Homo sapiens: one gene and its partners. The protein of the gene in region 3 interacts with the protein of the main gene of each other region in a pairwise test. Each region holds a gene or a part of one and is shown on either strand. Other genes may lie near its edges. The genes, in order: EPS8L2, ZDHHC20, CTSD and SPRY4.

Region 1 (7,928 bases), 1.1 Mb from region 3:
GGTCCCTTGGGGGGCAGAGCCCCTGCCCGACATCCCAGTTGGCCCCACGTCCCAGTTGGCCCCACGTCCCAGTTGACAGTCGATCAGCCTCGTCATGCCTCAGACCCTAGGTGCTCCACAGGGACCCCCCAGAGGCTGACTGGGAGGCTCTGACAAGGGCCCTGGGGGCAGAAGGCGCCTTCCAAGCTGGGCAGCATGGAGTTTAAGGCCCTGGTGCTGTGGGGAGGGGGGTGGGATGGGTAAGGGGAGGGGGATGAGGTGGGAGTGTGGGGGGAGGGGGGTGCGGTGGGGGTTGGGGGAGGGCGGGTGGGAGCTGCAGGATGGCAGGAGAGGTGAGGCTGGAGTTGGGGTAGGTCCTGAAGTCCAGAGGGAGCCCGGCTCTAGCCGCCACTCCTGCCCCACCCCAGGCCTGCACCCCAAGGGGCTCCTGCACCCACATGTGGACTTGCCACCCACACATGCCACCTCTGTCCAGGCCCCAGCAAAGAGGCTGGCCCTTGGCTCTTTCCTGGGCCTGGGAGACCTGGCAGGGAAGAGGCTGTGCGGGCAGGAAACCCTGGGGTCCCCGGGGTGCAGTGTTTCCTCACCTCGAGGGCAGGGATGCGGCCAGGTGGCCAGCGCAGAACCCCTGGCAGCAGCCAAGCCTAGGGGAGGGACTGGAGGGCAGGTGTGGTGGGGGCTGAGACTGGGAGCCAGTCCAGTGGCCCCAACACACAGTATCACTGCCCCTCCAACGAGGTAGGGTGGCTATGGGGCAGGTGCCTCTGGCCTCCCCCAGGGGCAGAATCCTCAGAGCCTGTCTCTGGGCTCCTAGTGCTGACCTCTTCCCCGAGCATTTTGGGGAAACTAAGGCCCAGCCGCCAGGGCAGACAGGTGGGTCTGATTTGGGCTGGACCCTAGGGGCTTCCCGGGGGGATGGACAGAGCCTGATGGCCCTGAACCAGGCTGACTTGTCCCAAGGGGACTATGCCCTGTGGGGACCTGGCTGTTCTGTGGCTCTGTGATCAGCTCCCCACAGGTCCACACCATCTGCCTCCTGCCAGGGCTGCAGGGCTGTCCCCTGTGGCTTCAGAGTTTGGGTCTGCCACGGTGGGGGTCACCAGCCACTGCTGTTGGTATGGAGGGTCAAGGGAGTGGCTCGGAGCACCCGGGACTTTCTGGTTTGACCAGGTCTGGCCTAGTGGGAGGGTCTGGGAGGCCCGGGGGCACTGCCGCTGACATGAGGGGCTGGGTGCACCAGGGGGTATGGCCACTTCCTCCATCCATCTATCCGTGGAGAATGTCTGGAATGTTCACGGGCTCAGTGGCGAGCCTGAGTGTTTGCTTAATGGGATTCCTGGCGGGCTCCACCAAGGGCGCCAGGCACGTGTGTCCAGGCACACACCTGGGCGAGACACCAACGCACCCTTGCAGACTCAGGCCTGGGGGCACGCAAACATGGAGGGCTGTGACACGCGACCCCCCTGGGGAAGGCCAGGTTCCTGGCCTTCGGTTGCCTGCAGGGCATCGGGGACCTCAGGCCCAGGCAGGGCCGGGCAGCAGTGGGGTGGGTCCAGGTGTGGTGTCTGGGTCTGAAGCACATGGGTATGGGGCTGCCTCCTGCCCTGTGGGAGCCCCGCCCCCCTGGGGAGGCTTCTTTGGCCCACTGGTGGTGGGGACGAAGCCCTGGAGGCCCAGGCTGCACTTTGTACTGTGGTCATTTTCCCGGTGTGAAGTGAGGCAGAGCGGGGTGCCCGGTCAGTCGGGCTGTGGAGGGGAGGAGGTCCCAGCAGGGCAGGAGGGTAGAGGGACGGGCTCCAAGTTCAAGTTCCAGCTCCACATGCTGAGTGACCTTGGGGAGGGGTCAGCTGAGTCACAGGGGCTCCAGGCTGCCCTCATAGGCGCTGGGTGGGGCCCTGGAATGGGGAGGCCCCTCAGGCCCTGGCCCTGTCCTTGTTTGGAAGCTATGGCTTGAGGGAGGAAGGGATAAGCTGGGGAAGCTGAGGGTGGGAAAGGAGACCGAGGCAGGCGGAGAAGGCCCGGTGGGAGAGCTATGCCAACAAGGCCTGGGTGCTAAGCAGGCCCGGGAGAGGCTGGGACCCAGGAGGGGCCGCGAGGGGAGGAGGGGCCGCGAGGGGAGGGGCCGCCGCCAGCTGGGCCTGCCTCCCAGCACAGCCGACCCAGGACTGAGCACGGGGTGGGTGGGGGCAGAGGTCCGGGCATGCCCGGCCCTGCCTCCCCCTCCCCTGCCACCAGGGACACCCCGCAGCAAGGGGCAACGCCAGGCAGCTGGACGCAGGGACCAGGAATCTAGGATGGCTGAAGTTCGCGTGCCCACAGGCTCCTGCCAGCCCACCCTCCTGCCTCTCCTGGCAGGGCCTCTGCAGCCCCTGTCCCAGCCTCCCCTCCTCCCTGAAACTCCCACCCCCAACCCTGACCTGGAGACTGACCCAGCTGGTGCTTCCCGGCCACTGGTTTCCTTCTGGGCTCCGACACCCAGGAAGTGCCTCCTGGCTCCGGCCCACAGGGAGTGGGTGTGCAGTGCTACCTCCACGGTCAGGCCCTCGGGAGGGTCCTGCTGCTCACAGAACCGGGAGAAGCCTCCCTACCACCAGCGCTCTCCGGACGCAGGGATTGCCCCCACCAAGCCCCAGAGCTGGGAGTGGGCAGGACGGGGCAGGTGAGTCACCCATCGCTGGCTTAAAAATATCCTTGCTCGCCGGCCGCCGCCCAGGACCGACGGGGGCAGGCCGGGCTGCAGCAGGACCCGTCCAGGAGAGGTGGGGACTCGACCAGGCCCCCAGCCCCTTGCCCCGCGCCCTCGGCCCGGCCGCCCTCCAAGTGCCCCGCGCCCTGCGACGCCGCGTTCGTCCCGGTGTCCTGAACCAGAAGCCCCGCGTCCCATCGCCACCGGGTAAACTGAGGCCCGGGCGGGCGCGCTCCCCCGTGTCCGCAGCGCTCACCTGCCTCCGGCGCCCCGCGCTCGGCCTGTCCCCTCGGCGCTCGCCGGTGCGTCCGTCTGTTCGCGCCTCGGCCGGGGCGCCAGGTCTCCCGCGGGCGGGTGGGACGCTCGGCGGGGCCGGGCCGGGGCGGGGCCGGGAGAGGAGGAACCTGAGCGACAGGTTGCGGAGTCACCCGAGAGCGGGCGGGCGCGCGGGGGAGGAGGGCGTGGGATGGAGGCGCCCCCGCCGGCCTCGGACCCAGCTCCGCCCCGCCCCCTGCCCCGCCTGGGCTCCAGCCCCAGCCCTCTGCGTCCTCCCCAACACCCGCCTGGTGTGCCCCTCCGCGGGCCTAGCCCCTAGAGCTGGGGCGCTGGGGACAGGCGGGGCGCAGGGCCGCCTCCGCGGGATGAGCAGGGCGAGGCCTCGAGCTCTTCCTTGGGCAGGGCCTAGCTGCGCCCCAGCAGGCCGGGGGACGGGGGAACGCTGCCAATGGGACTTCGGGGGCAGCGCTGGCGCATTGCTGGGGAGGGCTCCAGCCCTGGGGAGGTCAGAGCCTCCGCCGGGCCAGGTGCACCCCTCAGGTGCCCCAGGCATGGGGCAGAGTCACTTCCCTTACCGGGCCCACCGCAGGCCCAGGGGCAGAGGCTTCGGTGAGTGGGTGGGTGTCAGGCAGGACCCAGCCATGCCCACCCCAGGCCTGGAGCCCTGAGTTCACAGTGCAGCTGCTCCTCCAGGCCCCCCTTTCTGCCCAGCCTGGGCACTGAGGGATGGGGTGTCAGGGGAGGTGGGGACACCTCAGGCCCTCTCAGGATGCCTCTCTCCTTGCACTGCCCCGTGGTCAGGCCCAGGCCCCACCTCTGCCCACCACAGTGGGACTGTCTGGTTCCGTCCTCATCTGCCCGGCTTCCAGGATGGCCCTTCTCCCCAGCTGCTGTGACCGCTCAGAACAGGGCCAGGGTGCAGTGGACACAGCGGGTAGCACCGGCTGCCACAGCAGTCAACTGGACGAGGACGAGGTGAAGGGGCACAGGGCGCCCCAGGCCCATGCAGGGACCCAAGGCTCCGGCTGCCGGTCCTGGGTAGGGGTGGGAATGAGCGTGGCCAAGAGTCTGGGTCCCCGGGCTATGGTCCCAGAGGGGCAGGGCTAGCGTGTTTACCCTGGGCTGGCCGGAGCACTTCCTGGGGAGGCGCCATAGGTGAGCTCGGTGGAGGGCTGGCAGGAAGTGGCCCTCCTCCTTCGGGCCCAGTGCCTGCCCCTGAGCCCAGGCAAGACCTGGCTTCCTGGTTTACAGCCTTTGCCGTTTGATCTCCAGGAACCTGCCGTGATCCTGCTCCATGCATGAGCTTGCCCTGACCCAGAGCTCAGGGTCACACACGCCAACCCCTCGGTGCACCCGTGCCCTCACCCTTCCTGGAGGCAGAGCTGGGAGTGGCCAAGTGGGAAACAGGCGCTGGAGAGGACAGCTGGGGGGTGGGGTCCCTCTCCACTCCTAAACGGGTGCCTGTCAACACGATTTTGAGTGCGGAGCCTGCCCTCAGGAGACAGTCCAGGCTGGCCTCTCGGGCCCCATCCACTCCGGGTCACCTGGAGCCATGGCGTTCCCTGTGGAACAGGTGACCACTGCCTTTGTGTGCTCGCTGAGACTGGAGGTATCAGGATCCATTAACCATGAAGGCAACAGGTCTCCAGCTTCAGGGAGGGGGTCCTTCCCTGGTCTGCATGGTTTGTGGGCTGGGTCCTCCAGATGGCAGGTGTGCCCAGCTGGTCTTCTGCGAGTGCAGGCGCTGGTGAGGGAGGTGGCCCGAGGCGCTCAGGCGCTGGTGTGTGAAGTGGGTCCTCAGGGCTGTCCTGCAGCTCACCGTGGCCACTGGGGGCCACAGACAGGTCAAAGGAAGTCGGCCCAGGACAACTGGGTGCTCCCACCGCTTCCACGAAGACAGGCAGGAAAGACTGTCCAGGTGCCACAGCCACAGCCACCCCAGCCGAGGGAGCCCCAGTGGAGGCCCAGGACAGTCCCGCAGCCTCCTGCCCTCAGGAGTCCACCGAGCGGAAGGCGCCCGGCAGCCAGGGCCCGAGGGCGAGGCCAGCCAGGAACTGACCAGCTGGCAAGTGGGGTGTGCTCTCTTGCAGGGCAGGAGAACTGGAGATGGGGTGGGGGAGGTGGCCATAATTAGGAGAATTCAGGGAGGCATACACATCTCTTTATTTACAAAATGCGGTGAAGAGAAAATATCTAGATATTTGGGTGTAATTATTCCAAACATAGAAAACACACAATAGAATCAAGTGAAGGGAAAGCTACTGTAACAGCTTAGATACTTTTTAAGGAGAACTGATAGTAAATCTGGGAATGGGAAAAAAACACAGAGCTAGAATTTGTTTAGCACTCCGTGCAAAAGGCAAAAGCTGATAAAACTGGAGTGGACGGAGGCTCCGAATGTGGCCCTCCGCTGCTCTCTCTCCTGCAGTCTCATCCCCGGCCTTAGCCCTGACCTCTCCTCCGAAGCCCCTGAAGGGAGAAGTGTGGCTAAGATGGAAATTGCTAGGCAGCAGAGCTGTTGGCTTGTTTGCATTTATTGCTTTAGGAACCCAGAGTCCACTCTTGCACCGGGCCTGCCTGCCTGTGAGGCAGAGCTGGGGTTGCTCAGAGCACAAGGCCTACCCCATCCTGCGTCTCCAGCCCGACTTGGAAACACAGGTGGGGCCTGGCCACGGAGTAAACTGGGATCTCAGAACACAAATTAGGACCATTGGGGAACTAGGGGGTGATGGGGGATGCAGTGAGATGAGGCCTCTGTTCTGAAGGGCTCTGTCCTCCCTCTCGGCCCTGGGGGCCCATGGGGGTCTGTGGAGGCCTGGCTGCTAAAGCCAGACCCCACTGACAGGGCTGAGTGTGCGCTCCTGGGACTCATCTTGAAGGCAGTTCTGTCTGGTCCCTACCCTCCCCGCAGCTGTTCCCAACACCAGGGCCTCCAGCAGTTTGTTCTGCCCTGGCTCCTGCTCCCACTCCTGCCAGAACAGATGGAACCATCCAAAACCATCTATGGCCAGTCACTAGGAAAAGTGCCCTTCCTGTCCAGGAATGGGGAGGTGACAGCTGGGGGACTGGTCAGGCCCAGGAGGAGGGCCCCAGTGTGGGGTATCCCGGGTGTCCGTAGCTACCTGGTGAAGGCCGCGATGGCAACCACCTGCAGGACGGCCTCCAGGCCGTGAAGGGCCAGGAGCGTGGCGCTGAGGGCCCAGTCCGCCCACAACACTAGGGCCTGCCAAAGCAGGAAGTGGGCAGAGAGGAGGGCGGTGCCAGCCGTGAGGGCCAGGCTGGCGGCCAGCGGCCTCTCAGCCTCTGTCAGGTTGCCCCTGGTGCCTGGAGAACAGAGCAAAGGGGAGGGAAGGTGGTGCGAGGCGCTCCCTGGAGCCCACCGCCCACAGGTGCCTGGAGGGCTGCTGGGACCAGAGCAGCTCCTTGCCCTACGTTCCTCCGGGGCCTGGGGAATTCCAGGGAAACAGCCTCCATGGCCACCCAGAACTCAGGAGAGCCAGAGAGCATGGGCAACACAGGCGTGAGCCCCTCCTGGGGGAGGTGCCCCTGCAACAGCATGGTTTGATCTGTCTCTGGGTCTTCTGGGTCGGCTGTGTGGGCGGGGGTGAATTTGGTTTCTAAAATGATTCAAGTGCATCTGCCACGTTTTCCTAATTCCAAGTGGAACTGAAGGGATTTTTTTGAAAAATTCCCAAAGTATTTTTCTCTGGTCCAAGGCCAGTTCTGGAAAATTTCACGAGTATGTATTAAAAACAAAACTGCGTATTTAGCAAACAAATGGGTCAGTCACTAGCTGAGCCCAGGTGCCTGGAGACCCTGCAGTGTGCGGCGCGCTTGGGGAGGGTCCCGTTGGCCTAGCAGCCCCCAGCAGGGCCAGGCCACACCCTGTCCCCACCACCTCAGGGCAGGCCCAGGCCCCAGAAGATCAGCCAAGAACCGGGCCTCTGTGCCGCAGCGGTGCTCGCACCCTCCCAGCAGTGCCCGCCCTGGGGGGCAAGCTCTAGAGGTTCTGGGACGTAAGTGCAGACAAGACACTGACGGCCGGGCACCCCTCAGTGGGATGGGCAGCTGAGAGAACTCGCCTCCATCCTCCTAGTGTGTCTGAGGCCTGATAACAAGAGGAAGGGTGGGGGCCACCCTTCCCCGCAGCCTTGGTTCCTCACTGGACATCAGGCATCAGGGGTGTATCTGTATGTGAACAAGAGGGGCCCAAGATTCCAGCCTGGCAGGGGCACAGCGCCCTGGAAGTGCCCATTGCGTTCCCCACGGCAGGACAATGTTTCACAAACACGTGTGTTTAGGTGCACATGTTACGACCATGAGCACGCAGAGGGCTGGAAGTCTGCACCCCGCTGGCCACAGAGGTGAGCTCTGGGGAGGGCGAATTTCCATGTTTTACTTCTGCACCCCTTGAATCTTGTACAAGAACATACCCTTGAACAAATTGTGTGGTTAAAAAAAGGGGAGTGAGGCCAGGCACTTTGGGAGGCCAAGGTGGGCAGATTGCTTGAGCCCAAGAGTTCAAGACCAACCAGGGTAACATAGCGAAACCCTGTCTCCGGCCGGGCGCGGTGGCTCACGCCTGTAATCCCAGCACTTTGGGAGGCCGAGGTGGGCGGATCAGGAGGTCAGGAGATGGAAACCATCCTGGCTAACATGGTGAAACCCCATCTCTACTAAAAATACAAAAATGAGCCGGGCGTGGTGGCGGGCACCTGTAGTCCCAGTTACTCGGGAGGCTGAGACAGGAGACTGGCGTGAACCCGGGAGGCGGAGCTTGCAGTGAGCCAAGTTCACGCCACTGCACTCCAGCCTGGGCGACAGAGCGAGACTCTGTCTCAAAAAAAAAAAAAAAAAAAAAAGAAACCTTGTCTCGTCTCTACCAAAAAAAAACAAAACAAAACAAAACAAAATTAGCTGGGCGTGGTGGCAGGTGCCTGTAATCCCAGCTACTTGGGAGGAGGGG
Region 2 (7,019 bases), on a different chromosome or scaffold from region 3:
AAGGAGATGACAAAATAATGGTTAACAATATTTTCCAAATTTGATTAAAGCTCTAAAACCAGAGATCCAAAAAGCTCAACTAATACCAAGCACAAGAAACTAGAAAACTAGATCAAGATATACCATAATCAAATTGCATGAAGTAGTGATAGTCTTAAAAGTAGCCATAGAAAAAACATATATAGACTAACAAAAATAAGAGTTATCACAATTTCTTATTAGAAAAATGCAACCCAGAAGCATAACATTTAGCAACATCTAAAATTTTTTGTTTTGTTTTTGAGAGACAGTCTTGCTCTGTTGCCCAGGCTGCAATGTGTTGGCACCATCTCAGCTCACTGCAACCTCTGTCTCCCAGGTTCAAGCGATTCTTGTGCCTCAGCCTCCCGAGTAGCTGGGACTACAGGTGTGCGCCACCACACCCAGTTAATTTTTGTATTTTTAGTAGAGACCGGGTTTCACCATGTTGGCCAGGCTGGTCTTGAACTCCTGGCCCCAAGTGATTCACCTGCCTCGGCCTCCCAAAGTGCTGGGATTACAGGCATGACCCACTGTGTCTGGCTAATATCTAGAATTTTATACCAAGCAAAAATGTCTTTAAAAAATGAAAGCAAATAAGTCATTTTCAGACCAAAAAAAGGCAATTCAGTTAATCTAGGGAAAAAACCCATAACTCTTACAAATATGTCACTCAATCTTCAAATATTTTTCCCTTCTTTTTGATGACTTTGGTATATAGCTGGCCTAAAAAGGATGGAAACTGGAAAGAAATGGAAACTATCAATCATCTCAAGAATATACTCTCATTTACATTTGGGGTAAAATTGCAGTATGTGGTTGGTCTTCTTTGATTTAGGACACAACAGAATACACAATTCATTTCTGTGATAGGATCTTTGAAGTTGTGGCTAATAACTATAAATTTTTATAATTCTTTACTTCAAACAAGTTATTTGCATTTTGAAGAAAAAATCTTATTTTTTTAGTGAATCATCTTTTTCTTCTACTTCCCATTCAAATATATAAACTCTCCTTAACCTTATCTAATTAAAAAATGAAAAATAAAATATTTTATGTATAAAAAAAGATATTTTGAGTTTTCATTCTCAAAGTCTGTGAGAATATCATTATATATTATATTCTCTAAATCTGAAGACATTTAACCAGAAAAAGAGACTACCACAGATGCCATAATCTCTGAGACCCACATTTTATAAATTACCTTGAAAATATTGGAAGTAGCCAATATTTCTTTTCATCACCAAAGACTTGTCTCCAATTTTTACTGCATCCAAGAGAGAAACCATTTCCATCAGGTCCGTATGAAAACGTGGGTGCGCGGAATGATTCTGTTAAATATACATACATATATAAACTAATTAATCTATTTAAAAATTATAGGAGGGATGGAAATTACCAATTTTCTTGCTTATATCTTTGACACAAAAACTGTAAATATAATTTAAAATAAATAATACATTAGTAGCAATTAAAAGATAAATTTATGAAACTTATTTTGGGAAAAAATAGCACATTTAATATTTCATCAACCTTATAAAGTAACATGTCAAAATAATTATCAAATATTACTGAAAATCTAGTATTGTGTGCTCAGTATCTCTTGGCTTTTTTTTTCTACAAGATATTCTAACTCCTGCAACTTCACTCATTATTTATGAATTTCCTACTATGTTCCTGATAGCACTGTACCAGGTATTTGGGATTCAAAGATAAATTAGATAAAATTCCTACCAAAGAACCTAGAGTCTAGCAAAAATTACAGTGTTATAAGTGCTAACATGGCCATGACGTACTGGGAGCACAGAGGTGAAGGAAGCTAATTTTGTCTCGATAGAGACATATGTGTGCCTCGGGGGTGCTTGTAGGGAAAGGTGAGCAAGCTGAGGATGACTAGACCATTATTTCAAGCTTGGTTGTTAAGTGATGTAGAGTGAGGTCTGGAGAAAGATACAGGCTTCACAAAAAATGTTTTTTAATTTAAAAACAAGGCACTTCAGTGTGTTTTATAAGCTAAGGATAAGAACCCAGGGCATTGGGAGGGATTGCTGATATAAAAAAGTAAAATAAAAACTGAAGAAAGGGATCCTAGAAGAGATGGGAAGGAGTCTAGAAAAGTTGTAAAGGTTAACCTTGAATACCAGAAAAGACATCTTTCTTCCTCAGAAGTTAGAGGAAGGTGAGAGTGATGGGTGTGAAACAAGAAATGTTTGTATGAGGCTATAAAGATGTGAAGATGAGAGTTTACTTGTGACTCCTTCTAATTTTTCTACTAGGAACTCATAAAATGGGTAAGGAGAGTGGGAGAATTATGAAAATCTGGAATAACCATCTTGGGTAACAGGTGAGGGACCTGACCAGAAACATGTGACATTACTGCCAAACAGAGCTAAGGCCCTCCATGAGGCCTAACATCTTAAATCTGTAGCTATAGCAAACCTTATGGAGTAAGACATCCTTCTACAGCTTTCAACAGCCCCACTGTGCACGCGGATAGAGGATGGCTGGATAACCAGAGCCATGAATTAGCAAAGGAATAATGGGAGAAAGTCTAGGCACCAAAGATGTAAGGAGCTGTTTTTGTCAAGAGCTGTTAAAGTCATTTATCATAGGATCTAGAATGGACATGGGTGAGAAATAAAACCAGAAGGGAAAGAAAAACTTAGGAGAAAATTGTTGGAGAATAGAAGACTCAGGAAGTACATCAGAATACAGCAAATAGAGAATAACATATTCAAGTTTAAAATTTCATTTTCAGGGGCTCTTCAGTTCTAAGCGATTAAAAAACTCAGAATCAAAGGGACTAGCTTGCTTGTTCAGGATAATGGCATTAGCTTAAATGTAGGAACTCACTAAATGAGGGTAAACGATCTCAAGGTGGGTAGGTGACAGTTATGAAGAAGACAGAGGTGATACAGCAGAATAAGACACCCTCAAAAGACCCAAGAACAAACATCTGAATCAGTGGAGAACTAGCTAAAGACCAGGGCTGTGGGAGATGAAGCTGTTAGAAAGTGGTGTGCTAAGCAATGTTTTTTCAAAGTGTGGGTTAAAACACCTTAACAGACCACATAATCAACTGAGTGACTTGCAACCCGCATTTCCTTTTAAGAAACTAGAAAAGAAAATATCAGAATATACTGCATATAGTAGAGATTAAAAAGGTTTTGTGAAACTTTTGCTTGTTTTATTTATATAATTTTATAAATATTTGTGCATGTTCTAAGTCATGATATGAAATGCTGCATTTCTTACTGTGGCCACCGGCAAAAAAAAGTTTGAAAAAGATTGTTCAAGAGAATAGCAGGTTCCCTAGAAATGCCAATCTCTCACATACCTACGGGGGCTGGGCAGGAAACAAAGAAGGCACGACTGGCAAGACCTGCAGCAAATGACAGTGTCCACACCCTATCTAAATCCATGCCCTATCTTGGGCAGTCCACCACTGCTTAGCTCCATTTCACTGACGCCAAGTGGGAAAACGGGCCTACTACCACTAGATTGATCAGTTTTGAAAAGAAGAAATCTGGTTTTCTTTGTGAAATCACTCACATAGATTTTATTGGTTGGGGAGAACTTAAGGGCTGGACTTTGCCTGTAGGCTGCCTTTTTATCATTTTCAATTAAAGGTAAAGAGATGGCATAATATTCTATAAAGATGACAAAAAAAAGTAGTTAATAGGGATAAGAAATTTTATTTACATGGAAAAGGGATGAAAGCATGATGGAACTGGAAGAGAAGGAACAAATCCTCACACTGGAAGCCCACCATAACTTACAACACAGCTCAGTAACACAACGTTAAAATGATCCAATAACTAAAGCATCTACATGTCTCACCCCAAATCCCTTAATTTTTCTGTAATTAAAAACTGTTTCCCTCCAACTTACCTGGCAGATATATGGCTGCAGATTGCAGGTGGATTTTAACTTTTTTACAAAACACTACCGTAAAAATCCTTATTTTGTGTCTTGGTTATGTTAGCAGATACATGAATATTTCAATGATAACATAGCAGTACTTCTTACATGTCAATAGCTCAGTGAGCAATGCCACCATTGCTGTTTAGGGAATGTTTGTCCAATTACGTGAATACCTTACTTTTCCCCCTATATTTTCATTTTTTAAAATGAGCAAACAAAAAGAGAAATAAATGTTAATACTAGTGACACAATACGTAAGTCTCACTGACAACTGACACAAATATGGAAATAATGAGGCATGTCAAAAGCACTATTCCTTAGCCTCAGTCATGGAACATATGCCAGTTAAATGTGTTTAACTGTGGGGGAAAAAAGTAAAGAATATATATGGGCTGGGCAAGGTGACTTGCATCTGTAATCCTAGCATTTTGGGAGGCCGAAGTGGGAGGATCACTCAAGCCCAGGAGTTTGAGACAGGCCTGGGCAACGTAGCAAGACCCCATCTCCATAAGAAATAAATAAATTAGCTGGGTGTGGTAGTGCACACCTGTAGACCCAGCTACTTGGGAGGCTGAGGTGGGAACACTGCTTAAGTCCAGGAGGTCAAGGCTGCAGTGAGCTGTGATGGTACTACTGCACTCTAGCCAGAGCAAGAGTGAGACTCTGTCTCAAAAAAAAGAAAAAAAAAAAAGAATATACATGAAATACATTGTTATGTTTTAGCTAAAAGATAAGCTGTAATTGAGGATATAAAGGTTTTCTTATTTGAGAACAAACTTCCTTAAAGCATGTAAATCTACTGTCTATCCCTTATAGATTAATTTTTTTTTTTTTGAGATAGGGTCTTACTCTCATTGCCCAGGCTGGAGTGCAATGGTGCAATTTTGGCTCACTGCAGCTAGTTTTGTTTTGTATTTTTAGTAAAGACAGGGTTTCTCCATGTTGCCCAGGCTGGTCTCGAACTCCTGCACTCAAGTAATCCATCCATCTTGGCCTCCCAAAGTGCTGGGATTACAGGTGTGAGCCACTGTGCCCTGCCTCTTATAGATTAATTTTTGAAACGACACTGTATGAATGCAGGAAAGTTTTCATTTATTAAAATTTATAAAATAGTTCTCCACTTTTATATATAACACATTACTGAAAATGTGTTAAAAAGTCAATCTCATTTCCTCAACCTTCTCCAAAATAATGAACCTTTATTATAAAACCATTGTTCCCATCCAGTCACAATTAATTTTACTACAGAATTATTTTATTATTTTTATTTTTTAGAGACTGGGTCTCCCTATGTTGTCTAGGGTGTCCTCCAGGGCTCAGGGGATTCTCCCGCCTCTGTCTCTGCAGTAGCTGGGATTATTAGGCACGTGCCACCAATTCCAGAGTCAGAATTGTCTTACACTTCTGTATCATCTGACCCTTGTTCTTCTCTAGATTTCATATTTATTTATGGTCATTGTCCTAAGTAATTATAATTTATTTTAACCTACTTACCTATTGTTGTTCTATTTTTTCCAACTAGCCAGCAGTGGTAGCTGAAAAGTGAGAGGACGCTGATGAAGAACATTGCAGACACAAAGAAAAGAAAAAGTACGTGGAATTTTGCACGTGTATCTGTCAGTTCATTCTGAGGAAAAAAAGAAGTTAATTTTGAGGTCAACCTCTAAAATATAACTTACAAGTTAGTTCTGTCTAAAGATTGTTGAATATATCAAAATACTTGCCATATTTGAAAACTAATAAATTACTTAATATATCCCAATGCAACAAGGGCAAAAGCAAAGAATTGGTATTACCAAAGCAACCTGCTTATCTAGGAGTTCAGGAAGAGTTATTTAAAATACTGCTCTTAAATTTTTTTTAATTTTAGCTTGGCATGGTGGTGCATACCTGTAATCCCAGCTATTGGGGAGACTGAGACAAGAGGGTCACTGAGCCTAGGAGTTCTAGGCCATCCTGGGCAACACAGTGAGACCCTGTCTCATAAAAAAAAAAAAAAAACAATAGCAATACTTCCAGTAATAAAGTGAAAAGATCGACTCTTCTACCCAACAAATTTTCTTTTGTACTTTATGTATATATTCAAGCTTTCTCCAACATCCGACATATATAAGCTCCCCATATCTATACAAAAATATTTGCTTATTTTATTTAGATTTGCTGCTAACTAAAAACTAATTGTGAAATATTTTTGGACTTCTTTAATCTCTATTTTCAGACCACCTTACCCATGCCTTCAGCTGCTTCAATTCCTACTTTTTTCATCTGTATGTCTACAGAGCCTTTGTGCATAGTTAGCAATTTTGATAAATAAATTTACCACAGGTATTAATGAATGAAAACAGCTTCTCTGGTATCCCTTCTTATGGCTATATACATTTTAACAGAAGCAAACTAGAGCCTAGAAGAAATTAGTACCTTTAATAGAAGGAGGCAGCCTTTAAATGTTAGCTCTTAAAATAAACCATATAGGCAAAGCATCTACTCCACCAGAACACGAGGCTGTTCTGCTTGATTTAAAAAGTATTACAGACTAAAAGAAGACTATTAGCATTAGGTTATTGTGACATTGATCTTTTTCTCTTTTCTTCCAGAGTAACCAACATGTTTCAAATGTTTCAAACATATCAAGTGAGTCTTCTGACCATTTTGTGAAGCAAATTTTTATTAAACATATTCACTATAAATGTCACAAAGATCATGAGAATGTCATGGTAATGATGTATTTTACCTTTGGACAACTCTCTGTAGACTTCCTGCGGCAAAGCTTGTGCAAATAGAGACATATATTAAGAAACCAATTTTTATGCAAAATTATCCTAAACACTAGTTTTATAAATCCTGTTGAAAGAACACTAAGATGTTGCTTTCTAATGGCCATCTATAACATTTTCTCAAGAAATACAAAAGAAAAAATAGACAAGAACATGTAGCTGTTCAAGCACATTTCTTTTCTTTTTTCTTTTTTTTTTTTTTTAAAGATACAAGGTCTTGGCTGGGCACGGTGGCTCACACCTGTAATCCCAGTACTTTGGGAGGCGGAGACAGGCGGATCACTTGAGGTTGAGTTTGAGACC
Region 3 (7,019 bases):
GTGGTAGTGGTGGCCTTGGGGCTCCCCCTGCCAGCCCCAGCCCCAGCCCCAGCCCCCGGCGCTCACCTCGCCCTGAATCAGCGGCACGGCCCCGATGGCCTTCTGCAGCTCGCGCACCTCATCCACCGGGCCCACCATGAGGGAAGTGCCTGTGTCCACAATGGCCTCACAGCCCTCCTTGCACAGGGTCAGCCCGCTGGCCACCTCCACCCTGCGGGGAGTCAGGGCGTGAAGCCCCTGCCGGGACTGGAGTGTGCCCTGGGGGCCCAGTGCCCCTCCCTGGGAGCCCCTCCCCTGGCTGGGCTGCACTCTCCTCCCCTCAGGGCTCCTGGAAGCACAGCCGGCTGTAAGCCCTCCAGGGAAGAGGGTGGGAGAGGAGACACAGAGTGGTAGAGGGGGTGGGAGACCCTCAGGTGGTGGTGAGGGGCATGGAGGGATGGAGGGGATGGAGGGGCATAGAGGGATGGAGGGGATGGAGGGGATGAAGGGATGGAGGGGCATGGAGGGATGGAGGGATGGAGGGATAGACAGATGGAGGGGATGGAGGGTCATGGAGAGTCACAGAGGGATGTGGGGATGGAGGGATGGAGGGATGGAGGGGATGGAGGGATGGAGGGATGGAGGGGATGGAGGGATGGAGGAGATGGAGGGTCATGAAGAGTCACAGAGGGATGAGGGGATGGAGGGGATGGAGGGCATGGAGGGATGGACAGAAGGGATGGTGGGTCATGGAGAGTCACAGAGGCATGGAGGAAATGGAGGGATGGAGGGATAGAGGGAATAGAGGGGATGGAGGTGATGGGGAGCATGGAGGGGCAAGGAGGGGCATGGAGGGCTGGTCTGACCCCATCTCTTTCTTGCCCAGCTCCCACTACTCCCCACATGCAACCCCCACCTGCAGAACCGGGGTCCTCCAGGGTCTCCGCACACCGCCCCCGCCCACAGAACCCAGGGGAGCCGACTGCAGCCACTACTCACTGGTCCAGGTGGACCTGCCAGTAGGCCTTGCGGGTGACATTCAGGTAGGACAGAGAACCCTTGTAATACTTGGAGTCTGTGCCACCCAGCATCAGCTCACCCCCAGGCTGCGCATCTGGGTCCCTAGGAGGAAAAGGGAGGAGTCAGCTGCCACGCCACCCCCCAAGCACAAGAGTGCCAGGTCAGGAGTAAGAGGGTGAATGTGGCAATCAGGGAGAGCTTCCTGAAGGAGGGGCCTTTCTGAAACTGCAGGGATGGAAAGGCCCAGAAGGCAGGAGGAGGGACAGACTCCCTTCTTCCCGGGGTAGGGCTGCTCTGCGTGGGCCCAGCCTGGCCCAGAAGAGGTTTTCCTCAACCCTCAGGTTCTCCTGGTCTGCTCAGGAGCCAAGGTTCAGCCAGACATCAGGGTCAAGGCTAGCGGCAGACAAGGAAGTGAGTGCCAGGAGCTCCACTGGGGAGGACCCTGTCTGTCTGTCTGGAAGAAAAAACCAAAGAAGGCTTCCAGGAGGGAGTGATGGCACAATCTGGGAAGTTGGGATGGCTGGTTCTGGCCGCAGGGCCTCTGCACTGGCTGCTCCTGGGAACACCCTCCACCTGCATCCCCGAGCCACGTCCGCTCATCTCCCCCTCATCCAGACCACTGATGGCCAGCCAAGGTGCTCCTGGGCAGGAGCGCACTGCACTTCCTAGGACCTGCAACCCATGTCGCCCGGGTTTGTTTCTAAACATTGCTCAAGTACAGCTTTCAACGCAGCAAATCCTGCCGGTCCTGGTAGAGAAGCTCTCTGTGTCTGGGGCGGTTCTGCCATCCCGCCAGAGCGTCTGCAGCTAAGCTGGCCACCATCCCACTGCCTGTCACTCGAGGCAGTGCCAGGCCTGACCCAGTCCTCCCAACACCGATTGGGGCCTCCGCCCTCCTCCAGCCTCCTCCGCCTTTGCCTCTTGTCAACACCTCTGCAATCCCAAGTGTAGAAACCTGATCAGCGCCTCCCACCCCTCCTCTCCTCACCAAACATGCTTTCAGAAGCCCTCAGACCCTCCCTCCTGCCTGGCTCCACTTCCTGCCCAAGCTGCTGCCTTGAGACTACACCTGGGCACTCACAACCATGTGCACCTCCCCCACCTGGGCACTCACTCTGTGTGCCCCTCCTTCCACCTGGCACTCATGCCTGTGTATGCCTCCCCCGACCTGGGTACTCATACCGTGTGCCCCTCCCCCACATGGGCACTCATGCTGTGTGCCCCTCCCCCACATGGGCATTCATGCCTGTGTCCCCCTCCCTGACCTGGGTACTCAGGCTGTGTGCCCCCTCCCCATGTGGGCACTCATGCCTGCATGCCCTCTTGCCCTCAGGGGACCCCTTTTCACCTGGCTGCCTCCCCTGTGCCCCAAGGCTCCTGGGGAAATGGCCCAGCCGGTTCACCTGTGTCCTGGCCTCTAGTGAGCAGCTTAGCCCTGGGTGTTGCTAAGGAGTATTCACTGCCCAGGCAAGGGGCAGAGCAAAGAGGCCCAGCCAGCCCTACAGCCGGAATTCTGCCGGAAGCGATCCAAGGTTAGGGGTCAGGCCCAGAGACTCCAAGTGCCAAGTGAGCCACGTGAGGTAAACCTGCCCCTGTCAGCCCTGGAGAGTGTGGGGCAGTGACCAGGCGCAGCTCAGGGCAGGAGGCCGCCGGCTGACACGCTGCCCACCCCCAAAACAAAAGCCCCCAACCCCCAGTCACCCCTCTTATGTGGAACCCTCCACTCAGGTCTGCCCCGAGAAGAGGAAACTAACTGAGTCCGACGTCCCCTTCCCAAGGTCACCTGACCATGGGTCACCCAAGCTGGAGCAGCGGCTGCAGGTGGGGGCCCTGGGGGAGAACCCTTTTCCCAGAAGGAAGGGCCCCCTATGTTCCTCCTCGAGGGCAGCCGGCACCTGCTGGGGACGCCCACAGAGCTGCTCGCAGCGTGGTGCCGGGGACCCATACGCACCCAAGGTCACCTCCCCGGGGATCCCCGGTCCCCTGGGCACCATGACCCTCTCCACCATCAGCAACCCCGGGACCAGGACCACATGTGCCCATCACCAGGTCTGGGGACCGACGGGCCGACTGAACCAAGAGGAACTGCCACGACCCCTGACCTGGGTCCATTCTCATAGGAGGGAGGCCCAGCTGCCAAGGTCCCAGGACCCACAGCCTGGCCCGAGCCCCTCCCACTGGGAGACCCCGGCCAAACAGCTTTCTCTGTGCTGCCGCTTACTCCTCTGCAGAAGGGCGGCCAACCCCCGCCTCCCGGATGCCCTGAGGTCAGAGGTCAGGAGCTCTGGCACAGCAGCAGGGAGGGGGCAGCACTGAGAGGGGGTGCCTAGAAGGCTCCCCGTCCAGCCCCGCCCTGCCTCCCAGCAACGCGGAGCGAGAGGGAACCCACACGCCCACCTGCTCAGGTAGAAGGAGAAGATGTTCTGGTCCACCAGCTTCTGCTGCATCAGGTTGTCGAAGACGGGCAGCACGTTGTTGACGGAGATGCGGGGGTAGGCCATGCCCAGGATGCCATCGAACTTGGCTGCGATGAAGGTGATGCCTGGCTGCTTGGTGGCCTCCCCAAAGACCTGCCTCTCCACTTTGACACCGCCCAGGGCAGAGGCTGACGACGCTGACTGGCAGGGCACCTGCAGGCCAGGGCAGAGTCAGTGGGCAGCAGACAGGCTGAGCCCTACACCACTCCCTGAGCATGAGGCTACAAAACCCAGTTCAATGGATGCCCATCCCACACACGATGGGGCCCAGAGGGCCCAGAAGAAAGGGCTGGAAACCCTGAGCTGAACACCGCTGGGGATGGGGACACGGGGTATGGCGGGGCCCTCTTCGTGGAAGTCATCAGGGCTCGGTTTACACGAGATGGGAACCAGGCAGGAGCACAGACGGGCAGGCCCCTTGCTCCGCTCCCTGCTCCGACCTCTTACTCCCACCACCAATGACAGGCAGGTCCTGCTCCTGCCCTCAGCGCTGGGAACAAGACACAGCCTGGGCCAGGAGCCCGAGAGATGGGGAACCTGCCGACCCCATCCCAAGCTCACAGCCATACTGCCCCCTTCCCCTTCTCTGCCTGTCCCCTCCCCCAGCCCTGGATGAGGCTGCAGAGAGAGAACACGGCCAGAGCAGGATGTGGGAAGGGAACGACAGCTTGAGGCTGACACGGGGCGGAGGGGGCAGAAGAGGGCGGAAGAGGGCAGACGGGGCAATTTCCTGTTCAGGCTGAGCAGGGTCCAGACAGGAGGGCTCTGAGGAGCCCCCAGTACAGACTGGACTCCAGCCCAGCAGGGAACTGTTAGGAGCAGCTTCAGCTGGAGGAAGGGGCCCTCTTCCCGGGTCCCTGGGCCTGCAGGGGGGCTCTGCTGCCCTCCTGGCCCGCTCCAGAGCTGGGGGCTGTGTCACCATCCCGTAACTCCTGAACCCCTTGTGGCCTGGTCCACCCCCAGCAGACAGCTCCGAGGTGAGAACTCACTGAGGCCCAGGCAGGGTGACAAGGGCCAGCTCACCCTCTCCTAGGGCAGGGAGTTGCTCTGCACAGGGCCCTGAGGATGGTGGATGCAGGCGGGGCCCCCAACAGCCACTGCTGCTCCCCCTCCCTTGCCCTCCCAGGCTCCTGCCGGTGACTCTCCGCCAGCAGCCCCCACAGCGGGTTCCTGGTACATCCTCCCAACCCCAAGCCTCCCCAAGCCCTCGGCCTGCTGCAGGGACCCTGTGCAGCCCCAGGTCCAGCCCTCAACACCTGCTGGCACCTCAAACCCAATGTGCCAAAAAGAGCCCGATCGATCTGCCCTGTCCTCCCTCCCACTCATTGTGGCCTGACTCCGGGGACCCCTGCCCCTGTACCCCCTGGGTTTGAGGCTGTCCCTCCAGCCTGCACACAACCAGGCCCATTCCCAGACCCCTCCTCACCCTGCTGACTGCCCCGGCCACCTGAGGGCTGGGGTTGGGCTGGGATCACCGAGCCCTCCCTTTCAACCACATACCCACGGTGGGTGAACCCCACACCCTGGCACCCTCGAGTCCTGGGAAAGGCCCCAGAGGGACTCACCGACACAGTGTCCTGGCTCAGGTACCCGGAGAGGCTGCCCGAGCCATAGTGGATGTCAAACGAGGTACCATTCTTCACGTAGGTGCTGGACTTGTCGCTGTTGTACTTGTGGTGGATCCCTGCCCCGGGCGACAAGGGGGCCCGCCGGTCATCCCGCAGCCCACGCCACGGCCTTAGCCCTCCCATCCCCCTACAATCTACCATGGAGCCCGCACCCCCCAAGCTGCCTCCCCAGGGTGGGATTTGGAGGGGATCTGAGGCCCACCATCATGCCAGAGCCCCGGGACTGTGGGCTGTGACCCCGGGCCTCCCTCCCAGCCACAGCCGGCTCCCTCTGTGGCCACCCCAGCCCCAGCCCTGCTGAGAGCAAGACCACAGCTGGTGGTTCACCCAGAAAGTCAGTGGCTGGAGCAGGGTGGAGGGCTGGCCTGGCTCACGGGGCCAAGAGGCAGGAGAATTGCGTTGCCCAAGTGATTCCTGAGGCAGCCCTGCAGCGACATCCCGGAAGGGCAGGACCTGGGCGACGGGGCCAGGGTTCGTGACTCACAGCAAGCGATGTCCAGCAGTTTGCAGTGGATGGAGGGGACCCACAGGTTGGAGGAGCCCGTGTCGAAGACGACTGTGAAGCACTGGGGGGGCGTCCCGATGCCAATCTCCCCGTAGTACTGGGCCTGGCAGGGGACAGGGTCCGTCAGGGATGGGAGAGGGGGCCCCATCTCCCCACTGGGCCTCAGAAGGCCCGGCTGTCCCCAGAGCCAAGGCCCATACTGGAGGGAGGGGCATCACGGGGCCCACAGCTGCCAACAGCCACCCACTCCCACCTGCTCAGCCTGCAGGGAAGATGGGCCAGGTCCCCAGCCCTCGGTCCTAATGCCCACGGGTACTTGGGGTCTCTAGACCCCTGGCTTCTGTCACCTACCCCTGCTCAATACATGGTGAGGCTGAGGACTTCCCCACGGAAAAGACAAGGCCAGAGGTCAAGCCAGGGTGGGGACAGACGTGGCCCTCAGCCTGAGCCCCGGGTGCAGGAAAGCCCGGCCTGGAAGACTCCCCTGGTGGCCCGCAGTCCAAGGTCTGAGAAAGGAAGTGACTTCCTCCCCAGGTTGGGGCCATGTCAAGGTCTGATTCTGGGTGTCTCAGTGCCTGCCCTGCCCTCCAGGGTGAACCCCAGGCTTGGAGGGCTTCCAGGCAGAGGGGTTCAGCTGGTCAAGGGGAGAAGGTAAGCCTTACAATCACTGCCTGCCCAGCAACCCTGCCTTAATGGCCCAGGGCCTCAGTTTCCCCGTGTGTACACAGGGATAGCAGGCGCAGGTGGGGGTGCTGACTCAGGGATCAGGCAAGTACAAGGGGTCCCATGCCGCCGAGCCTCTCAGGAGGCAGAGAGTAAGAGGGTCCTGGAGTTTGGGGTCGCCTGGGCGCCCGCTTCCCCCAGGATTGGAGCCTGGGCCACCGTCAGCCACCAGATTCCTGGCACCAGCCCAGCCCAATGTTTCTCCAACCGCCTGGCTTCACGGAGCAGCAGCAGCTGCTGACTCATGGCCCCACAGAAGTGACCACTGGCAGGGGGACACTCAGCAAATTTCCATGTGTGTGTGTGCATGTGTGCGCATGCGTGCATCTGCTTGCTCGCGCGCTAGGACAATCAGGAACTGGCCAGTCGGGACCAGGCACACGGCGCCTGGTTCCCCCCAGGGCCCCCCTGGCCCAGTCACATGCCTGTGAGTCTTGGGCTTCCTGTCACAGCCAGGACTCGGGCCAAGCAGGACAGAGGGCAAGGCTCCCCCACAGTGGGCCAGAGCCCCGAGGCTGGACAGTAGGCCCTGGCCTCGAACTGACCCCATAGAGCTGGGACCAGGCTGACCAAGCCCCAGCTTGCTAGGTGGCTTCCAGAGTGCTCCACCTTGGATCCTGCTTCCCCCTGAAGGAGTAGTGGGCACAGGAGGGGCTGTTGCGAGAGGAAGAAGATGGGGAGGGGCTG
Region 4 (7,302 bases), on a different chromosome or scaffold from region 3:
GTTCTGGGGAACCTTCTTGAGGGCCTCAGGCTGTGCCCCCCTCCTCTGCTCTCTGTACTTTGTATGCACTGCTGATGTTAACTGTAATTAAGTGATTCTTTGATCAACTATTTGTTTAATGTCTATCTCCCGAACTTGACTATAAATGGTAGGAGTCCAGAATTTCTACACAGGTGGAAGGAAATAATCTGTTTGGGTAGGGGGGCCTTTGCTTCCATTGCATAATACTTACTAAGGTTGAGAAATGTCAACTGAACACAGAAACGAATGGGGGTTCTGATGGAGATTGTAGGAAGAAAACACATGCCATCCTCACCTCTCCATGCCCTCCCTGTGGCATCACCACTGTCTATAAGCCCTATAAGAGCAAAAATTGTGTCTGTCCCTTTTCTCACTATAACTGTTAACAGCTGGCACTATGCCTGAAACATAAGAAGTGTGTCACAAAAATAGCACGCAAAAAAACAATTTTTTGTGGAATAAATAAAATTTTAAAATGGAGCCTTGCACTTCTGGTCTGCAAAAGAGGGGTGACACAATCAAGACCCATTTTTTTTTTTTTTTTTTAGACGGAGTCTCGCTCTGTCACCCAGGCTGGAGTGCAGTGGCGCGATCCCGGCTCACTGCAAGCTCCGCCCCTCCAGGTTTAAGCAATTCTCCGTCTCAGCCTCTGGAGTAGCTGGGATTACAGGCGCATGCCGCCACGCCCGGCTAATTTTTTTGTATTTTTAGTACAGACGGGGTTTCACCATCTTGGCCAGGCTGGTCTTGAACTCCTGACCTTGTGATCCACCCACCTCAGCCTCCCAAAGTGCTGGGATTACAGGCGTGAGCCACCGCACCCAGCCAAAGACCCAGCTTTTTGAAACAATTTTACATATGAAAACATGCTGCACATACAACTGGCATACAGTAAGTGCTCCAGAAGTGACTGTCATTGAATTGGAATTCCTGCCTCTCCTCAATCCCACTAACTCCAGGTCCTAGCAAGCCTAGGAGATTAATAAAAGAACAAAGCTCAAAACTGAACCTACTCTACTCCCCTGGCCACAATCTGGTGGGAGTGACGCTGTTTTTATTGGAATCAGGGTAAAAGATTGTCATTAGCCCTGGCAGGAATGCAAGGTTGTTAGGATGTGCCTCTAGCAGGAAAGTTATACCTGGGGAAGACATCGAGTAGCTTTGGAATGAACAGAGTCAGATGAAGCAGAAAAACAAATCCAGCACAGACCTACCGGCCACCCAATCCTAAAGAAGGAACATGATGTCTTCACCCTGCAATGGAGCAAATGCTCTGCATTCCCCAACCACCTTTCGTTCTGTCCCCTCACCCCCTAAACTGTGGCCCCAGGGCTGCTGGAGAGGTTTAAAACACAAATCAGAATGTGTCAGACCTTGCTTAAAATCCTTAATGGGATGACATCTGAATTCCTCACCAGGCTCACTTCAAACTTGCTCATAAAGCTGTGGCCACAGAGGCCTTCTGTCAGTGCCTCTAATATGCCAGGCTTTTCCCACACACGGCCTCCACCCATGCTCCCTCTGCCTGAGATGTTTCTCCAGTCCTCCCTCAGATTCACTTCTCAGTCTTTGGGTCTCAACTCACAACTAGAAGCCGCCCTCTCAGAGACATTCCCTGATGACCAAATCAGAATCAGCTCCTTCCACCATCCCCCACCTCCCCGGCAAGCAACATACCCCAGAGAAAGCTCATTTCCCTCCTAGCACTTAGAACCTCATGTTGCAGCCTGTCTGTCTGTCTTTTCAAAAGACTGTGAGCTTCACAAGGGCAGGGAGGGCTGTCTGTCCCTCACCACTGAGTCTCCAGAGTCAGGGCAGGCCCCACTACAGAATCGATCAATGAATGAGTGAATGAGTGAATGAATGAATGAATGAATGAATGAATTTTTCATAACTGCTGCTCCAAACCATTCCTCAGCTTAGGTTCCAAGCACAACCAGAATATGACCTCCAGAGCCCTTCTAGACGCTCTGAATCTCGCTGTACTTAAGCATCAGAGGCCCCTCCCAGCTCAAGACTGGGAGCTCCTCCTTCTCCCCACCACAGGCTGGGGTCTCCTCGCATTCTCTTTCAGGGAAGCTGAGAAAGACTATGAAATGTAATCCTGTCTGTCTCCTGAGTTTCTCTAATAAAGAAAACAGGATAGCAACCCCCCTCCCCGCGGCTCCTCCAATCCTCCTTTTCTGCCATAGATTTAAGATTTATTTATTCCCATCCTTCTGACTGTTTCAGCAAGGGCCATGGGTGAGCACCAGCTGGAAAATTACTGCTTCAACTTTCATTGTTTAAAATGCTTAAATGACATGCGAGAAACAGGTTTTTAGGTCTGTGATGCTGAGAAGGGTTGGTAGCAAAGTAAAGCCAGGTTGCAAAGACCTAGAAAATAAGTGCTACAATTTACCAGCTCTTCCATATACCCGGTGCAGGACCCTTGGCCTCAGTTTCTACAGCTGACAGAGAGGGCGATACTGAACTTCAACAGCCTTAAAAGGAAGTCCTGGACAACTGTACCCATTTTTCTGGCGAAGAGTTCTCTTGGTCTTAGAGAAAGGTCTCGCCCCTGAAAGGAAGGCTGAGGTTCCCTAGGGGAGAGTCTGCTCTGCCCTCAGGAGCTGGGTAAGTACACGGAGGGGTGAGCCGAATGGTGAGAAGGCATTTTAGGCTAGGACTCGGTGACCTTGGGCTGCCTGCCTCTAGAGTCCCAGCCCCAGCCCTAGGCCAGACCTCAGCCCTGGGCTGGGAGCCTTTCATTGGTTCCTCTGACAACAGCCAAGCACAATCCTATAGTGGCGTAGGAAGAAAAAGACTGCCACACAATCTCCCCGTGCGGCCAGAACAGCGGCAAGACAGACCTTACAAGGGACTCAGGGCCAAGCCCTGGCCCAGACTCTGCTCTTATCCACGCATCAAAGCCACCCCCCGCCCCGGACTTCCCGGAGGCTACAGGCTCCTCCGTTCCAGGGAGGAGCAGGGCCTGCTGCGAGGGCTCCCCGCCTTCCTGGAGTCAGGCCTAATGGCGGGGGCTTTTCTTTTCACCGGCTTGAGCTGATCCTCACCCCCGCCCCCCAACGCCACCATCATTAACAGCGAAGAAAGGATCCCCAGCCATTTCCATTTCCTCTGCGGCTCAAGAGCCCCGTTGTTATTTAATCCTGAGGCCACCCCGGCAGCATCCTCGGCGCAGCCGGCTCCACCCATCCACCTGGCCAGTTCTCGGCCGCTCCCACTTCCCCGGAGGGGAGGCCGGTGAGAGGTGGGGGATATTGGGGAAAGGCGCCTACAACAGCGAAGGGCCGTGGGCCTTCGGTGGACCGAGGCTCCTCAGGCCAGCGTCCTGTGAGGGCTGGGAAACCGACTGGGACAGAGAAAGGACACCTAGCTAGGGCGACAGAGAGCGGGCAGACGCCCGGGCACTGCGGACATTGCACTGGGGCGGGGGGCGGGGGGAACGCTGGGAGGCGAGGGCCAGGCTTCCTCTGGCTGAGTTGCCAGAATCGCCCCGGGGGGTACTGGAGCCGGAAGAGGCCTGGGCCCAGTCACTGTCTACACCCAAGAAATGGGGGGAGGGGCGGCCAGCACTCACGAGAGATTCAGCCTCAGGAAAAAGAACCAGATTCACTCACCAATCCTCACCCCACCCTTTGATATGAATGATGGACATTTTCCTAATTTTTGGTAAACGCAGCTTCAAGACCCCTCCCGCCTGGCGTCTCTGGTCTAGAGCAAGAGAAGGCCCCCAGTAGGGGTCCTCCCGCCCCCCCTTTTGACTGCCTGCGGGGGGCAGAGATCCCCAGATCTAGGTGTGCCCTCCACCACCCTGCTCTCAACCCGGGATCCGGAGGCCGCAGCGTCCCCCACCCCCCAGCGACACTGACGGTTCCTGCCCAGGCCCGCAGTGGCGTGAAGGTGGCCTTTACCTCCTCTCGCAGGCTGGGAGGGGGTGCAGCCCGCGCAGCTGGCCCAGCTGCAGCAGTCGCCGCCGCCCTCCATTCATTAAAAAAAAAAAAAAAAAGGCAACAACAGCCTCCACTGGAACCTCCACCCCTCTTTGTAAAAGAACGACGGCTCCTGGTGGAGCTTGAGCCAGTCCCAGCAATCACGGGTTAAGATCTTTTCCCGCCCCCCATTCATAAAAAAAGGAGCGGAGCGCATGCGCGCTCAGGGTCTGTTGTGCCCACCCATTCATAGAATCGCGAACGGCACGCGTGCGCACTGGCGCTCCCTTCCCTCCCATTCATAAAAAAGCCATTTTCCCAGGCAGTGGTTGCAACATCGCCGCGGAGGTAGCGAGCTGAGCTGACAGCGCGGAGCTGGCGCTGTGGAGCGCAGGGAGCCTTGCCGGTTCCTCCGACCGGCGTCTGCGAGTACAGCGGCGGCTAACCTGCCCCGGCTTCAGGATTTACACAGACGTGGGGCGATGCTTGTGACCCTGCAGCTCCTCAAAGTAAGTCCATGGCTGGTTTGGAGATCTGAAACTGCCCCTCTCTGAGCCGCGACGCGACTCCCCCCTTGGGCTGGGGCAAATGGTGCGCTATTTCTAGGCGCGCCTCAGTGTTCCTTCCCTCAGCCTGCGCCTCCTTGAGTCGCTGCGGTGCGCCGCAGCTCCCTGACGCCCTCGGCCCGGCCGGCACGGCGCCGGGGGTGTTCACAGCCTGGCACCGCCGTTTCCGACCCCTGGGCATTGCCAAGCCCGGCTTCCCCGCCCTCTGAGACTCGGGAAGCCCCGTGCGTGTCCCGGGAGTTTGCCTCTGGCCTGGCCTCTTTCCTTCTCCTGCCACCATCCGCCTCGAACGCTGGAACGGGCGTCTCTGGGCTTGGTCAGGAGCCACCGTTTGGGTCGGGGGGCGCCCTCGCTCTGGGCGGCTCGCCCACCTCCCAGCTCGGTGCCCACGGTGCCAGCTTTGCCGTGTATCTCCCAGCCCGCCGTAGCGGCCTATGCTCGACGTAGATTTTTTCTTTCTCTTCGGAGCCGTGACGGACTGAATTCCCTCCCCTTCTGCCTCTCCCTCGATGGTCAGCGAGGGGCTGGCTCAGGACTGGGCATTCCTACTCCCTCTCCTTGGCGAGGCGGTTCCTCGCCGTCTGACCTTTGCTCCGCTGCCGCATTTTATGCTATGCAACTGCCTTGCAGTTGACTTTTTCTTGCCTGGCCTCTGTAAGGCCTGAGGCTCCTCGGCCACCCTGTACCTCCCTATCCTCGGGCACCGAGCTGTGCCAGGCCCCGGAGCCCCCAGGCCGCGCTAGGGCTGCGGTGGGGGTTGAAGGTGCGTTTACATAACACCAGGCGTGTGGGAGCTGGAGGAAGAGGTTGCGAATGTAGGAGAGATAAGGCTCCTGCTTTCCCTCCTTCCTTCTTGGTGGTACCAGGCTTGACATCACAGAGAAGAGGATAGAGACGGTATGTTCTGACAAATTCTGAATCGCCAAGACCCCGGGGACAGTGAGCTGGGTGAGGGCGGGTTTGGCTAGCCAGGGCAGCTAGAGCTTGGCTCCATCACTGGGTCCAGGGCTGTGCCCAGTTCCCCCTCCATGCAGACGATCAAAAAGCATTTAGACAGTAGCTGCTCTTGTGCAAGAAGACGGTTTCTCAATTCTCCTTGATTGGGGGCAGGGGGTTGTGGGCAGGAGAGGCAGGGGAGACAGAAAATGGTTGCGTGGCTTATAGGGCTGAAGGATGGGCAAGAGAGGCGAAATGGGCTGGAGGGGCTAGATGGTAGGCAGAGTAGGGAGCTGCTGGCTGCCTCTTTCACCAGCTGCTGGAGGGGCATCCATATTGCCAAGGCCTCTGTGAGGGCAGGAGGCCGCCTTCTGGCGCAGCAAGGCTTCCGTACCCCCCAGCGCGGTTAGTGCTGGAAAGAAGAGTGTACAGTGGGGTGCCCAAACCTAGTGGCATCCCCTTCTTTCCTGCCTCCAAATCAGTGGCGTGATTCTCTCCAGTTTTGGGAGAGGCCAGACACACTGGAGGCCAAAGAACTTGCAGAGGGGCGGGAGCAAGCACTCGTCTGTGTCTGTAGCTGACCGAGGCACTAACCTCCCTGACAAGTCTCTCGGGATTCAAAGCTGGAAGGTATAAGGCTCAGAGAAGTTGGGAACTGCGGGTTTATCAATCTCTTAATGAGCTCAGTCTGGCCTGAGGCCCTACCCAATATTGCACTGGTGGATTTCACAATGTTTGGAGTTCTCCAGATCTTCACACAAATGGAGCATAAACATCTCTGAAATTTTCAGCCTTTTTTTTTTTTTTTTTAGGGCGGGTGTCAGGAGAGCTAGGAGAGGCAGGGCTGCAGTTAAAGATTTCTCTTTCTCTCTCCCTCTCTGTCTCCCAGAAGGGTGGGAAAGAACTAGTGGAGATGTCCAGTGTGAAATCACATTTCCTCTTTCCCATCTCTTGGGAGGGTTCTCACGTGCTGCGAGGCTCCAGCAAATCCTAATGTGGTGAACAGCACACACACTTACCAACCACGCCATGTGGCCAGTACGGGTGTAGGGTGGGGATTTTAGTAGCAGATTTCTGAAATCTTCATGGACAAATATTGGTCAGTTACAGTGAGCAGACTTTAAAGGCATCTGTTGGTTATCAGGAGTCACTCCCTTTCAGTGGAGTGTAAATGCCCTCTTGCCCTTAGCCCTCCTGCCCAGCTCCATGACCTTTTCCAGATCACCCTCTGAAATGGCCTCATCTCACTGAAGCTTTAGTTGGGGGCTGGTGGGAGGAGACAGAACACATAGTAGGGCAGAGGCTGTGGACAGGTGGACATTTGGAGCTTACGGATGTCGTTTTCATTTATATATATATATATATATTTTTTTTTTTTCTTGAGACGAGTCTTGCTCTGTGACCCAGGCTGGAGTGCAGTTGCGCGATCTTGGCTCACTGCAACCTCCGCCTCCCAGGTTCAAATGATGCTCCTGCCTCAGCCTCCCAAGTAGCTGGAATTACAGGTGTGTGCCACCACACCCAGCTAATTTTTGTATTTTTAGTAGAGACAGGGTTTCACCATGTTGGCTAGGCTGGTCTCGAACTCCTAAGCTCATGATCCGCCGGCCTCTGCCTCCCCTGGGATTACAGGCGTGAGCCACCACGCCCGGCCTCATATGTCATTTTTATCTGCATCCTCCCAGAATTGGCGGAGAGATGTGGCTCTTTGGAAATCTGTCCTGCCCAGTTCGCACCCACCCATGACCCCAGCCCCAACTTTGGTAAACCAGAGGTTTGGCTGACTTTCGTGAATAATAAATGAAAGCAGCCTTTCAGTGCCAAATTTGAAAATCAGTGATATA

The links.
Region 1: the proteins of CTSD (region 3) and EPS8L2 interact in binary tests that used the Homo sapiens proteins (3 or more experiments, as listed by UniProt).
Region 2: the proteins of CTSD (region 3) and ZDHHC20 interact in binary tests that used the Homo sapiens proteins (3 or more experiments, as listed by UniProt).
Region 4: the proteins of CTSD (region 3) and SPRY4 interact in binary tests that used the Homo sapiens proteins (3 or more experiments, as listed by UniProt).

Annotation. Positions count from the first base shown.
Region 1 is NC_000011.10:701,303-709,230, reverse strand, and holds the start of EPS8L2 (epidermal growth factor receptor kinase substrate 8-like protein 2), read right to left. Parts: upstream 3,001-7,928; 5' UTR 2,943-3,000; intron 2,660-2,942; exon of another isoform or gene 2,148-2,659; intron 1-2,147. Other genes in the region: TMEM80 (transmembrane protein 80), read right to left, coding at 5,245-5,431, 6,085-6,286. UniProt on the Homo sapiens protein: Stimulates guanine exchange activity of SOS1. May play a role in membrane ruffling and remodeling of the actin cytoskeleton. In the cochlea, is required for stereocilia maintenance in adult hair cells.
Region 2 is NC_000013.11:21,386,286-21,393,304, forward strand, and holds part of ZDHHC20 (palmitoyltransferase ZDHHC20), read right to left. Parts: intron 6,890-7,019; exon of another isoform or gene 6,824-6,889; coding exon of another isoform or gene 6,674-6,823; intron 6,639-6,673; exon of another isoform or gene 6,537-6,638; intron 5,570-6,536; coding exon 5,437-5,569; intron 4,129-5,436; exon of another isoform or gene 3,910-4,128; intron 1,350-3,909; coding exon 1,223-1,349; intron 1-1,222. UniProt on the Homo sapiens protein: Palmitoyltransferase that could catalyze the addition of palmitate onto various protein substrates.
Region 3 is NC_000011.10:1,753,928-1,760,946, forward strand, and holds part of CTSD (cathepsin D preproprotein), read right to left. Parts: exon of another isoform or gene 6,421-7,019; intron 5,713-6,420; coding exon 5,589-5,712; intron 5,161-5,588; coding exon 5,042-5,160; intron 3,630-5,041; coding exon 3,397-3,629; intron 1,102-3,396; coding exon 979-1,101; intron 212-978; coding exon 67-211; intron 1-66. UniProt on the Homo sapiens protein: Acid protease active in intracellular protein breakdown. Plays a role in APP processing following cleavage and activation by ADAM30 which leads to APP degradation.
Region 4 is NC_000005.10:142,322,007-142,329,308, reverse strand, and holds the start of SPRY4 (protein sprouty homolog 4), read left to right. Parts: upstream 1-4,287; 5' UTR 4,288-4,465; intron 4,466-5,061; exon of another isoform or gene 5,062-5,419; intron 5,420-7,302. UniProt on the Homo sapiens protein: Suppresses the insulin receptor and EGFR-transduced MAPK signaling pathway, but does not inhibit MAPK activation by a constitutively active mutant Ras. Probably impairs the formation of GTP-Ras.